Linked DNA regions of Homo sapiens. The protein of the gene in region 2 interacts with the protein of the main gene of each other region in a biochemical or structural test. Each region holds a gene or a part of one and is shown on either strand. Other genes may lie near its edges. The genes, in order: CDC6, CCNF and MYBL2.

Region 1 (3,655 bases), on a different chromosome or scaffold from region 2:
GTTTGCAAAAACTTATCTGAATACCCTATTTCTTCCTCTTTTCAATAAAATCTTTGAACAGGCTTCTGTAGATATTCCCGAAAACCTATACAGTAATGTAGGAAAGGGGCTTTATATATTTCCTAGAGAGATGCAGAAATGAAGGGGAGGATAGGGAAAGGATTAATGATAAACTCTCAACCACAATCCAAGGGAAATAGGTGCCTTTTATATAGTACCAGTATTAATTCTTACTGTTAAAATCCATTTTAAATTTATTATCAGCTGAAGTATCATAGGCCTTTTGGAAAATACCTGCTCTGCAAAGCAGATTCTGATCTCTACCTCCGTTCCATCTGCTCCATCCCAACTTACCTTCCCCAGAGTGACCTCTTTGATTTTCAACTGCCTGATCAAGAGCATCAAAGAGCAAACCAAGATCTTCTGCTGAAGAGGGAAGGAATCTTGTGCTCCTTCTTGGCTCAAGGTCATCCTGTTACCATCAACTTCTGAGATGACTTGGGATATGTGAATAAGACCAACCCTCTTGGGAATCAGAGGCTCAGAAGGTGATTTACCTATAAAGTAAATAAGCCAAGCTTAATTCGATTTCTAAAATACTGTGTGTGTGTATGTATGATGAGACAGATGATACTAAGTTTGAGCTAAAGGAAATTCAAGTATAGTCACATGGTGGCAAAGCAGAGGTTTTAAATCTCTAACCAGAGGCCAAAGGATGAGAGATAATGCTATTCTCTTAAGGATGTCAAAATAATGTGGGATGACTTGAAAAGTAGGGTTACCCTTTCTCTGGGCCAAATAGTGAGCTGTTTTGTCCTATGGAATGTAATTTAATGTCAGAGGAACAAAACCCACCTCATGAAAGGACCAGAGAACTACTGTATTTTTTTTTGGGACAGGATCTCTGTCACTCAGGCTGGAGTACAGTGGCACTATCATGGCTCACTGCAGCCTTGGCTTCCTGGGTTCAAGTGATCCTCCTGCCTCAGCCTCCTGTGTAGCTAGGATTACAGGTACGTGCCACCATGCCAGGCTAGTTCCTAGTATCTCAGAGGTATAGAATAACAGAACCTTGAAGCAAAGATGGTGACTGTGCTTGGTAATTAAGAAAGGAAAAAAAAGGCCAGGTGCAGTGGCTCACGCCTGTAATCCCAGCACTTTGGGAGATCAAGGCGGGCAGATCACCTGAGGTCAGGAGTTGGAGACCAGCCTGCCCAACACGGCGAAACTCCATCTCTACTAAAAATACAAAAAATTAGCTGGATGTGGTGGCAGGCGCCTGTAATCCCAGCTACTTGGGAGGTTGAGGCAGAAGAATCACTTGAACCCGGGAGGCAGAGGTGCAGTGAGCCAAGATTGTGCCACTGCACTCCAGCCTGGACGACAAGAGTGAAACTCCATATAAAAAAAAAAGAAAGGGAAAAAAAAGTTGGAAAATTACCGAATATTTTGGATCAAATGAGTGGCTAAATGTGGAGAGTGAAGTCGCTGCCATGTCAGCCCTTCAGATGGCTTCCCCAAATGACCTTTGAGGTTTGGTTCACTTGCCCAAGCTGATTAGCAGTAGAGCAACACTTGAGAAAATGTCATTGGATATGCTAGCAGATAGCACCATCTTTTTTTTTTTTTTTTTCTTTTTGGTATTTTTTGTAGAGATGGGGTTTCATCATGTTGCCCAGGCTGGTCTTGAACTCCTTAGCTCAAAGCAATCTGCCCTCCTCGGCCTCCCAAAGCACTGGGATTATGGGCGTAAGCCACCATGCCTGGCCAGATATCATCATCTTAATAAAAGCCAGGGGTTGGGAAACTGCCAATAAGCTTCATAAGACTATATCCTTAGCAAACTACTGTAGGAACAGAAAACCAAATACCACATGTTCTCACTTCTAAGTGGGAGCTAAATGATGAGAACACATAGACACATAGTGGGGACAACACACACTGGGGCCTATAGGAGGGTGGAGGGAGAGGATCAGGAAAAATAACTAATGGCTTGAGCTCAGGAATTCATGACCAGCCTGTGCAACAAGGCGATGGGTTTCCCCCATCGCTACTAAAAATACAAAAAAAACAGCCGGGTGTGGTGGTGTGTGCCTGTGGTCCCAGCTACTCAGGAGGCTGGGGTGGGAGGATGGCTTGAGCCTGGGAGGAGGAGGTTGCATTGAGCCAAGATCACGCCACTGCACTCCAGCCTGGTGACAGAGCGAGACCCTGTCTCAAAAAAAAAAAAAAAAAAAAAAAAAAAAGACTATGGCCTTATCGTTTGGAGATGCATGAATTCCAAGACAAAGAAATGTGTTCTGTAACAACCTTTACCTGAAGTTACTTCCTGAAATCACTTGCAGTTGCCCCACAACAATTTACTTCTATAATATTACATTACCACAAAGGGATGCTGCAGAGGACTAATGGAGAAACCGGAGATCACAGATCAAGTAAAAGAATCTTAAAATTGAAAGGAATTTAGAAGTCTATTTTTACTCCCTATCCACTGGCCGAGTCCTCTCTAGAACAATCTCAACAAGTGGCATCTATCCAGCTTTTGTCTGAATATCTTCAATGCTGGAGAACCCACTATGTTTCAAGGAAGCCCAGTTAGTTCTAGTTATTATAAATTTTCTTCTTATATTTAGTTAAAGTCATTCTCCCTATAGCTTTCTGGAGCCCTTGAAAGCCAATCTCAACCTGGTATGGTGGCTCATGCCTGTAATTCCAAAGCTGTGGGAGGCTGAGGCAGGAGAATCACTTTATCCCAGGAGTTTGAGACCAGCCTGGGCAACATAAGGAGACTCCTCCACCCACTGACTCTACAAAAATTTTAAAATTAGCAGTAGCTGGAGCTGGGGAGGCTGAGGTGAGAGGACTGCTTGGGCCTGGGAGGTTGCAGCTGCAGTGAGCCATGATCGCACCAGCCATAATTGCACCACTGGACTCCAGCCTGGGAGACAAAGCAAGACCTTGTTTTACACAAAAAGAAAAAAAAAAAAGAAAGAAAAAAGCCAATCCCGCACAAACCAGAAGTCAAAAGATAGAACTTACAACCTCTTTACCTTTTTGAATTATGTTTGTGTTAGTGGTGCTCACAGGGGCCAGTGACAAGCCTAAATGTTACTGATGGGGAAAAAGGAGGAGGAAAAGGGGATAATCTGAAAAGTTGAAAAGGAGGAAGAAACCAGTATCTAAGTCTATACATTGGTATATATTGCCTACTATTAGCCTAAGCACTATTTTTGGCTACTTCTGAAACATTTTTAATTATTTTATTTTAGCAAATTGATGAAAAAAAGAAAGAATTTCATGCAGAACTATAATGCCAGAAACAATTTTACTTAAACTCCCAGCCAGTGTAGGAGTGAAAAAGAAACAATCAAATCTTACTATTCTGTTTATAAAGACTAACACTGGATATCAAATACTGTAAGATACGTAGTTCATGGCCATTTTACATTTGCCACAACCAAAACAAGGCTGAGGGAATGGAATATTAATTTTGTCATTTGTGATACCATGCAGCTTACTGTAGCAGTATGATCTTTTTACCTCTACCCTCTAGACTTGTTTAAAAGCTTGAGATATCCCAAGTTGAACTTATAATTCTTCTTATTATTATTCTTTTGGGACAGGGTCTCGCTCTGTTGCCCAGGCTGGCAGTGCA
Region 2 (3,655 bases):
TATTATAGAACATATAATATAATTATATAATATATAATTAACATAAATAATATATAATATATAAATATATAAAAATATATAATATAATAATATATAATAATCATATATATTAATATATATTTATATATTATATAATATATAATATATAATTATAATATAATATATATAATATAATATATATTATATATAATAGAATATAATATTACATATATTATAGAATATATTATATATTATAGAATATAATATATAATATTATATATGATATATATTATATTATTATAATTATTATATAATTATATGTTATACAATATATAAATACATATTTATATATAATTATTATATAATAATATGATATTATATATAATATTATATATTATATATAATAATATTATATTATATAATATTATATATTATATATAATATTATATTATATAATATTATATATTATATATAATAATATTATATTATATAATATTATATATTATATATAATAATATTATATTATATAATATTATATATTATATATAATAATATTATATTATATAATATTATATATTATATATAATAATATTATATTATATAATATTATATATTATATATAATAATATTATATTATATAATATTATATATTATAAATAGCTGGCAGACTAAATATAATTATGTTATAATATAATAATAGATATTATAAATATATCTAATTATGGATATTATATATATATAATTAAGGGCTGGGTGCGGTGGCTCAAGCCTGTAATCCCAGCACTTTAGGAGGCCGAGGCGGGCAGATCACGAAGTCAGGAGATCCAGACCATCCTGGCTAACATGGTGAAACCCTGTCTCTACTAAAAATACAAAAAATTTAGCTGGGCGTGGTGGTGCAATGCCTGTAGTCCCAGCTACTTGGGAGGCTGAGGCAGGAGAATGGCATGAACCCAGGAGGCGGAGCTTGTGGTGAGCCGAGATTGTGCCACTGCGCTCCAGCCTGGGCAACAGAGCAAGACTCCATCAAAAACAAAACAAAACAAAACAAAACAAAACAAAAACAAAAACATATATATATATATATATATATATATATATATATATATATATATAATTTGCTAATATCATGAGCCCAAAATATCTCATTTAAAAGTGCACTCTTATGACTAGTAGTAAGGTTGAACATTCCAATTTCTAACCACTTGAGTTTATTTATTTATTATTAATTTTTTTTGGCCAGGTGCAGTGGCTCACTCCTGTAATCCCAACACTTTGGGAGGCCGAGGAGGGCAGATTACTTGAGGTCAGGAGTTTTAGACCAGCCTGGCCAACATGGTGAAACCCCACCTCTACTAAAAATACAAAAATTAGCTGGGCGTGGTGGCAGGCACCTATAGTCCCAGCTACTCAGAAGGCTTGAACCCAGGCGTCAGAGGTTGCAGTGAGCTGAGATCGCACCACTGTGCTCTAGCCTGGGCAACAGAGAGAACTCCTGGCTTCAAGTGATCCTCCCGCCTCAGCCTCCCAAAGTGTTGGGATTATAAATGTGAGCCACTGCGCCCGGCCCTATTTCCTCTTTTGTGAGAATTGACTGAGGCCCCTTGAACTTCCACGAGAACTACGTTGTTGCATTTCTTGTAAACAATGTTTTTGTTGAGATAGGGTCTCCCTCTGTAGCCCAGGCTGAAGTGCAATGTTGCGATCACGGCTCTCTGCAGCTTTGACCTCGCAGGCTCAAGTGATCCTCCTGCCTCAGCCTCCTGAGTAGCTGCACTACAAGGCACACGCCACCACATCCAGCTAATTTTTTTTTTTTTTGAGATGGAGTATCGCTCTGTTGCCAGGCTGGAGTGCAGTGGCACAATCTCGGCTCACTGCAACTTCCTCCTCCTGGGTTCAAGCAATTCTCCTGCCTCAGCCTCCCGCGTAGCTGGGACTCTAGGCACATGCCACCAGGCCCAGCTAATTTTTTTGTATTTTTAGTAAAGACGGGGTTTCACCACATTGGCCAGGGTGGTCTCGACCTCTTGACCTCGTGATCCGCCCGCCTCAGCCTCCCAAAGTGCTGGCATTACAGGCATGAGCCACTTGCACCCAGCCCATCCAGCTAATTTTAAAATTTTTTGTCGAGATGGAGTCTCACTATGTTGCCAGAGCTGGTCTTGAACTCCTGGGCTCAAGCGATCCTCCCAACTCAACCTCCTACAGCGCTGGGATTGCAGGCGTGAGCCATCACGTCTGGCCTTCTTGTAAATCTGTAGACTGGCTTTTTGGACGTGAACACCACAATGTGCTATGACACCTCGGGCTGGGCCATTATCAATTTGTAATTTTGTCCCTAGCATTTGAGCGCAGATCACTCTGCCACCCACTTGGTGGGGTGACAAGAACAAGCTTCTATCCATTTGGCAAATAGGAGCTTTCTTTGATTCGTCCTGACAACTTTTTTTTTCCTTCAGACAGAGTCTTGCTCTGTCGCCCAGGCTGGAGTGTAGTGGTACTGCAACCTCTGCCTCCCGGGTTCAAGCGATTCTCCTGCCTCAACTTCCTGAGTATCAGGTGCCTGCCACCACGCCCAGCTAATTTTTGTATTTTTAGTAGCGATGGTTTCACCATGTTGGCCAGGCTGGTCTCGAACTCCTGACCTCAGGTCATCCGCCCACCTTGGCCTCCCAGAGTGCTGGGATTTCAGGCGTGAGCCACCGCACCTGGCCCTAACAACTTATTTATAGCTGTGAGGGGAGAGTCTACCAATGCTTGATTTCCTGCCTGTAGCCCTGGATGACTTGGTGACCAGGTGACATGACAAGCAAGGCGCTAACAGGAAGAGGAAGCAGGAAGGGACTCTCCACGCCCCTCTGCTCTCAAGTAGCCTCAAGTTTTGTTGTCAAGATCAGTTCTACCTATGGGACAACTTTCAAGAATGGCACAAATTTTGACAGCAGCTATAGCTCACAAGCATTTGAAAATTAAGAGGTTGGCTGGCTGAGAGGCAAGAGTGGATAGGCAGAGATGAATAACGCATTTCCCAGCTCTTCTCACAGTGTACCTGTCCTTTAGGACCAGTTCCAGTGCTGAACCGATCTTAGGGTGTCCCTCAATCCTGGCCTCCCATGTGGGAGCCCAGATAGTCCTGCCCCCCAATGTGGGAGCCCAGATAGTCCTGCCCCAAGGCTGGAGGGAGAAAGGCCAGCTCCCCACGTCATCCCAGCCCCGCACCTCACCTGCGCTTCCCAGCAGCCTTTGGCAGCGTAGTCCCTGAGTTTTCGGAAGCTGTGGAGGCATCGCCCAGGATCTGACACCTGTCAATGGGAGATCACCGAGCCTTTGTACAACTGTGTCTTGGGAGGAACTCAGAACCAAGACCCAGAAGGGCCGACACTACGCTAACTTCCCACCTCTTCTCTCTCAAATGGTGGAGTCATTTTTGGGGGTACCAAGAATAGCCGACTGACCAGTGGTTCCCGGAGGCTGAGAGACCGGGAGCAGCAAGAGCCACCTCCCTTTTGTGGACAGAAACGCATCCAAGGACCAGCATCAACTACGCCTTTGTCCAGCATAACTCCCCCCGACCCAGAGCAGGCACCACTCACATCTGTCCTCCTGTCGCTTTCCCAGAGGAGGTAGGAGCTGGTCAGACATCCCTGATGAGCAGCCTCCTCAAACAGGTCAT
Region 3 (3,655 bases), on a different chromosome or scaffold from region 2:
TCCATATGTTTTACATAATGGAGAACGTGTAGGCAGCGGCCAGCCCACCCTAGGGAAAGGTCTGGGGGAGAGAGGCTCTTACTTTTTCTTCTTTTTAAGACATAGGCACTTCTGCTTCACTTATTTTTATTGAGACAGGGTCTCACTCTGTCACTGGGCTGGAATTCAGTGTGGCATGATCGTAGCTCACTGCAGCCTTGAACTCCTGGACTCAAATGATCGTCCCGCCCCAGCCTCCTAAGTAGCTGTGACTACAGGGGTATGCCACCACGCCCGGCTAACTTTTGTATTTTTTGTAGAGACGGGGTCTCACCATATTGCCCAGGGTGGTTTTGAACTCCTGGGCTCAAGCAATCCTCCCACCACGGCCTCCCAAAGTGTTGGGACTATAGGCATGAGCCACCACACCCGACCTCACCTCTTTTTAAATTTTTTAATGAAATAGGGTTAAGAGCTACTTTCTTCTTTTTTATTTTCAGGAATGCCCTAGTGATTTCAAAAGCTGTAAAAAAAAAAAAAAAAGAGGCCAGGCACAGTGGCTCAAACCTGTAATCCCAGCACTTTGGGAGGCCGAGGTGGGTGGATTGCTTGAGGTCAGGAGTTCAAGACCAGCCTGATCAAACACAGTGAAACCCCATCTCTACTAAAAATACAAATATTAGCTGGGTGCGGTGGCGCATGCCTGTAATCTCAGCTACTCAGGAGGCTGAGGCAGAAGAATTGCTTGAACCCGGGAGGTGAAGGTTGCAATGAGCCGAGATCATGTCACTGCACTCCAGCCTGGGTGACAAAGCAAGACTGTCTCAAAAAAAGAAAAGGAAAAAGAAAGTTAAGATTTCACCAAGAATATTATGTTCAAAATCAGACTATCGCTTTTTCCTTTCAGTAACAAACCTGCATGGATATTTTAAGGAATAAAGTTGATGAAGTTAACAGGCATCAAGATTTTAAGAGATATTAGTTATTTGGAAAAAAAATTCTGAATATATTCTCTATGTCCATTTGTTGTTTTTCTTCTTTTAGGGACAGAGTCTGGCTCTGTTACCCAGACTGGAATGTAGTGGCATAATCACAGCTCACTGCAGCCTCCAACTCCTAGGCTCAAGCAATCCAATTCTCCCACCTCAGCCTCCCAAGTACCTGGAACAACTTGCATATGACACTATGCCTGGCTATTTTGTATTTTTTTGTAGAAACATCTCACTATTTTGCCTAGGCTCATCTGGAACTCCTGGCCTTAAACAATCCTCCCACCTTGGCCTCCCAAAGTGCTGGTATTACGGGCCTGAGCCACTGTGACTGGCCAAGTTGTTTTTTCGTGTGTTGATTTTTTTTTTTTTTGTAATGACAGGGTCTCAGTATGCTACCCAGACTGGTCTTGAACTCCTGGGCTCAAGGGATCCTCCTGCCTCAGCCTTCCAAAGTAACTTGGATTACAGGTGTGCACCACCGTGTCTGGCTTATGTCCATTTTTGCAAATCCCTTTTCAATCCTTGCCTACACACAGGCATAATTAATGGAGAGAAAAATCAGTGTACAGTATCTATTTTTTTTTTTTGAGACGGAGTTTCACTCTGTCACCCAGGCTAGAGTGAAGTGGCGACATCTCAGCTCACTGTAACCTCTGCCCCCCAGGTTCAGGCGATTCTCCTGCCTCAGCCTCCTGAGTAGCTGAGATTACAGACGCCTGCCACCGCGCCCGGCTAATTTTTTTTGTATTTTTAGCAGATACAGGGTTTCACCATCTTGGCCAGGCTGGTCTTGAACTCCTGACCTCGTGATCCACCCGCCTTGGCCTCCCAACGGGCTGGGATTACAGGCGTGAGCCACCGCGCCCGGCCCAGTGTACAATATCTTCTAACGCCGCTGTAGGGGAAAAAAAAAAAACAGTACGAGCTGCTTTGAATTCTGGGTGTTTTTACTCTACAAGGCAATCTTCCAAGTTGCTCCAAAAAATCCTCGTATTTATCCAGTTTAATAGTTACAAAAATGGAAATCGGGCCAGGTGTGGTGGCTCACACCTGTAATCCCAGCACTTTGGGGCCAAGGCAGGCAGATCACCTGAGGTCGGGAGTTCGAGACTAGCCTGACCAACATGGAGAAACCCCGTCTCTACTAAAAATACAAAATTAGCCGGGTGTGATGGTGCATGCCTGTAATCCCAGCTACTCAGGAGGCTGAGGCAGGAGAATCGCTTGAACCTGGGAGGCGGAGGTTGCGGTGAGCCAAGATCAAGCCATTGCACTCTAGCCTGGGCAACAAGAGCGAAACTCCATCTCACAAAAAAAAAAAAAAAAAAAAAAAATGGAAATCAGCCGGGCGCGGTGACTCATACCTGTAATCCCAGCACTTTGGGAGGCCGAGGTGGGTGGATCACAAGGTCAGGAGTTCGAGACCAGCCTGGTCAACATGGTGAAATGATGTCTCTACTAAAAATACAAAAAAATTAGCTGGGTGTGGTGGCATGCGCCTGTAATCCCAGCTACTCGAGAGGATGAGGCAGAAAAACTGCTTGAACCCAGGAGGCGGAGGTTGCAGTGAGCAGAGATCAGAGATTGTGCCACTGCACTCCAGCCTGGGCGACAGACGAGACTCCATCTCAAAAAAAATAAATAAATAAAAACCCACAAAAATTAGCTGGGCATGGTGGCATGTACCTGTAGTCCTAGCTACTCGGGAAACTGAGGCAGGAGAATTGCTTGAACCCAGGAGGCAGAGGTTGCAGTGAGTCAAGATCGTGCCACTGCACTGCAGCCTGGGCAACAGAGGGAGACTCCGTCTCAAAAAAAAAAAAAAAAAGAAAAAAAAGAAATCATAGGATCCACCTCCAGAGATGTCAGGTGCTTGAGGAAAGTTAGTAATCTTTCCCCAACTCCACCCGACAGGACCTGCATCAGGTCACGTTGGTCAGGTAAGTTGCTAGGTCAGACATTTGTAAACTGGAAAAAGCTTACAGGTTTCCAAACAAGGCAAGTCTTGTTTGGAAATGAAACAAATGAAAGAAGGCTTACTGTGCTATCCACATTACCTTCTCCTTGTTCTCCAAAGCTCACCGTTGCTTCCTAGAGTCACTCCTATACTTCCATAGCACATGGGAAACCCTCCTGTCTCGGGCCCTTACACTGCAACTGCCTGTCTCCTCCACATCATCTACAAAGGTCAGCTCCACCTTGGCATCCCAGGGTTTATCACCAAAAGGGCTTAAGAAATGTTTGCCCAGGGACTGACTGAATATACAAATAAATGAAAAAATGTGCAAAGCTGCTGCCTATTAGTCAATAAGAAATACTAATTAAATTTTTTAGGCCAGGCAAGACCCAATTTCAAAAGAAAAAAATTTTCAGAAATAGGAAAGGAGGGACGGTGTCTACAGTCAGCAATACAGAAGGATCTGGAATTCATTCCTGACCCAGTTCATGGGTCCTCCACCACTTCAATATAGAAGGCAAAAATCCAGAAGATACTAATAACAGAATGAAGTTGGCTTTAAAATCAACTGCCCCCAGACAGCTCGTGACAGAAACCATCTTTGCTTCTCCAGCATCCAGCACAAAGGCCTGGCTTCTAACAGAAGGTCAGCAAATATTCTTTCAAGGATGAAATGATGTCTGCATGGACACTCCCTGGTGCTCCAATGCTGTTTGTTTGTTTGTTT

What was found.
Region 1: the proteins of CCNF (region 2) and CDC6 form a complex in vitro, tested with the Homo sapiens proteins (one study listed by BioGRID).
Region 3: the proteins of CCNF (region 2) and MYBL2 form a complex in vitro, tested with the Homo sapiens proteins (one study listed by BioGRID).

What each region holds. Positions count from the first base shown.
Region 1 is NC_000017.11:40,297,730-40,301,384, reverse strand, and holds part of CDC6 (cell division control protein 6 homolog), read right to left. Parts: intron 558-3,655; coding exon 355-557; intron 1-354. UniProt on the Homo sapiens protein: Involved in the initiation of DNA replication. Also participates in checkpoint controls that ensure DNA replication is completed before mitosis is initiated.
Region 2 is NC_000016.10:2,439,378-2,443,032, reverse strand, and holds part of CCNF (cyclin-F), read right to left. Parts: coding exon 3,576-3,655; intron 3,285-3,575; coding exon 3,207-3,284; intron 1-3,206. UniProt on the Homo sapiens protein: Substrate recognition component of a SCF (SKP1-CUL1-F-box protein) E3 ubiquitin-protein ligase complex which mediates the ubiquitination and subsequent proteasomal degradation of target proteins.
Region 3 is NC_000020.11:43,670,114-43,673,768, reverse strand, and holds part of MYBL2 (myb-related protein B), read right to left. Parts: intron 1-3,655. UniProt on the Homo sapiens protein: Transcription factor involved in the regulation of cell survival, proliferation, and differentiation. Transactivates the expression of the CLU gene.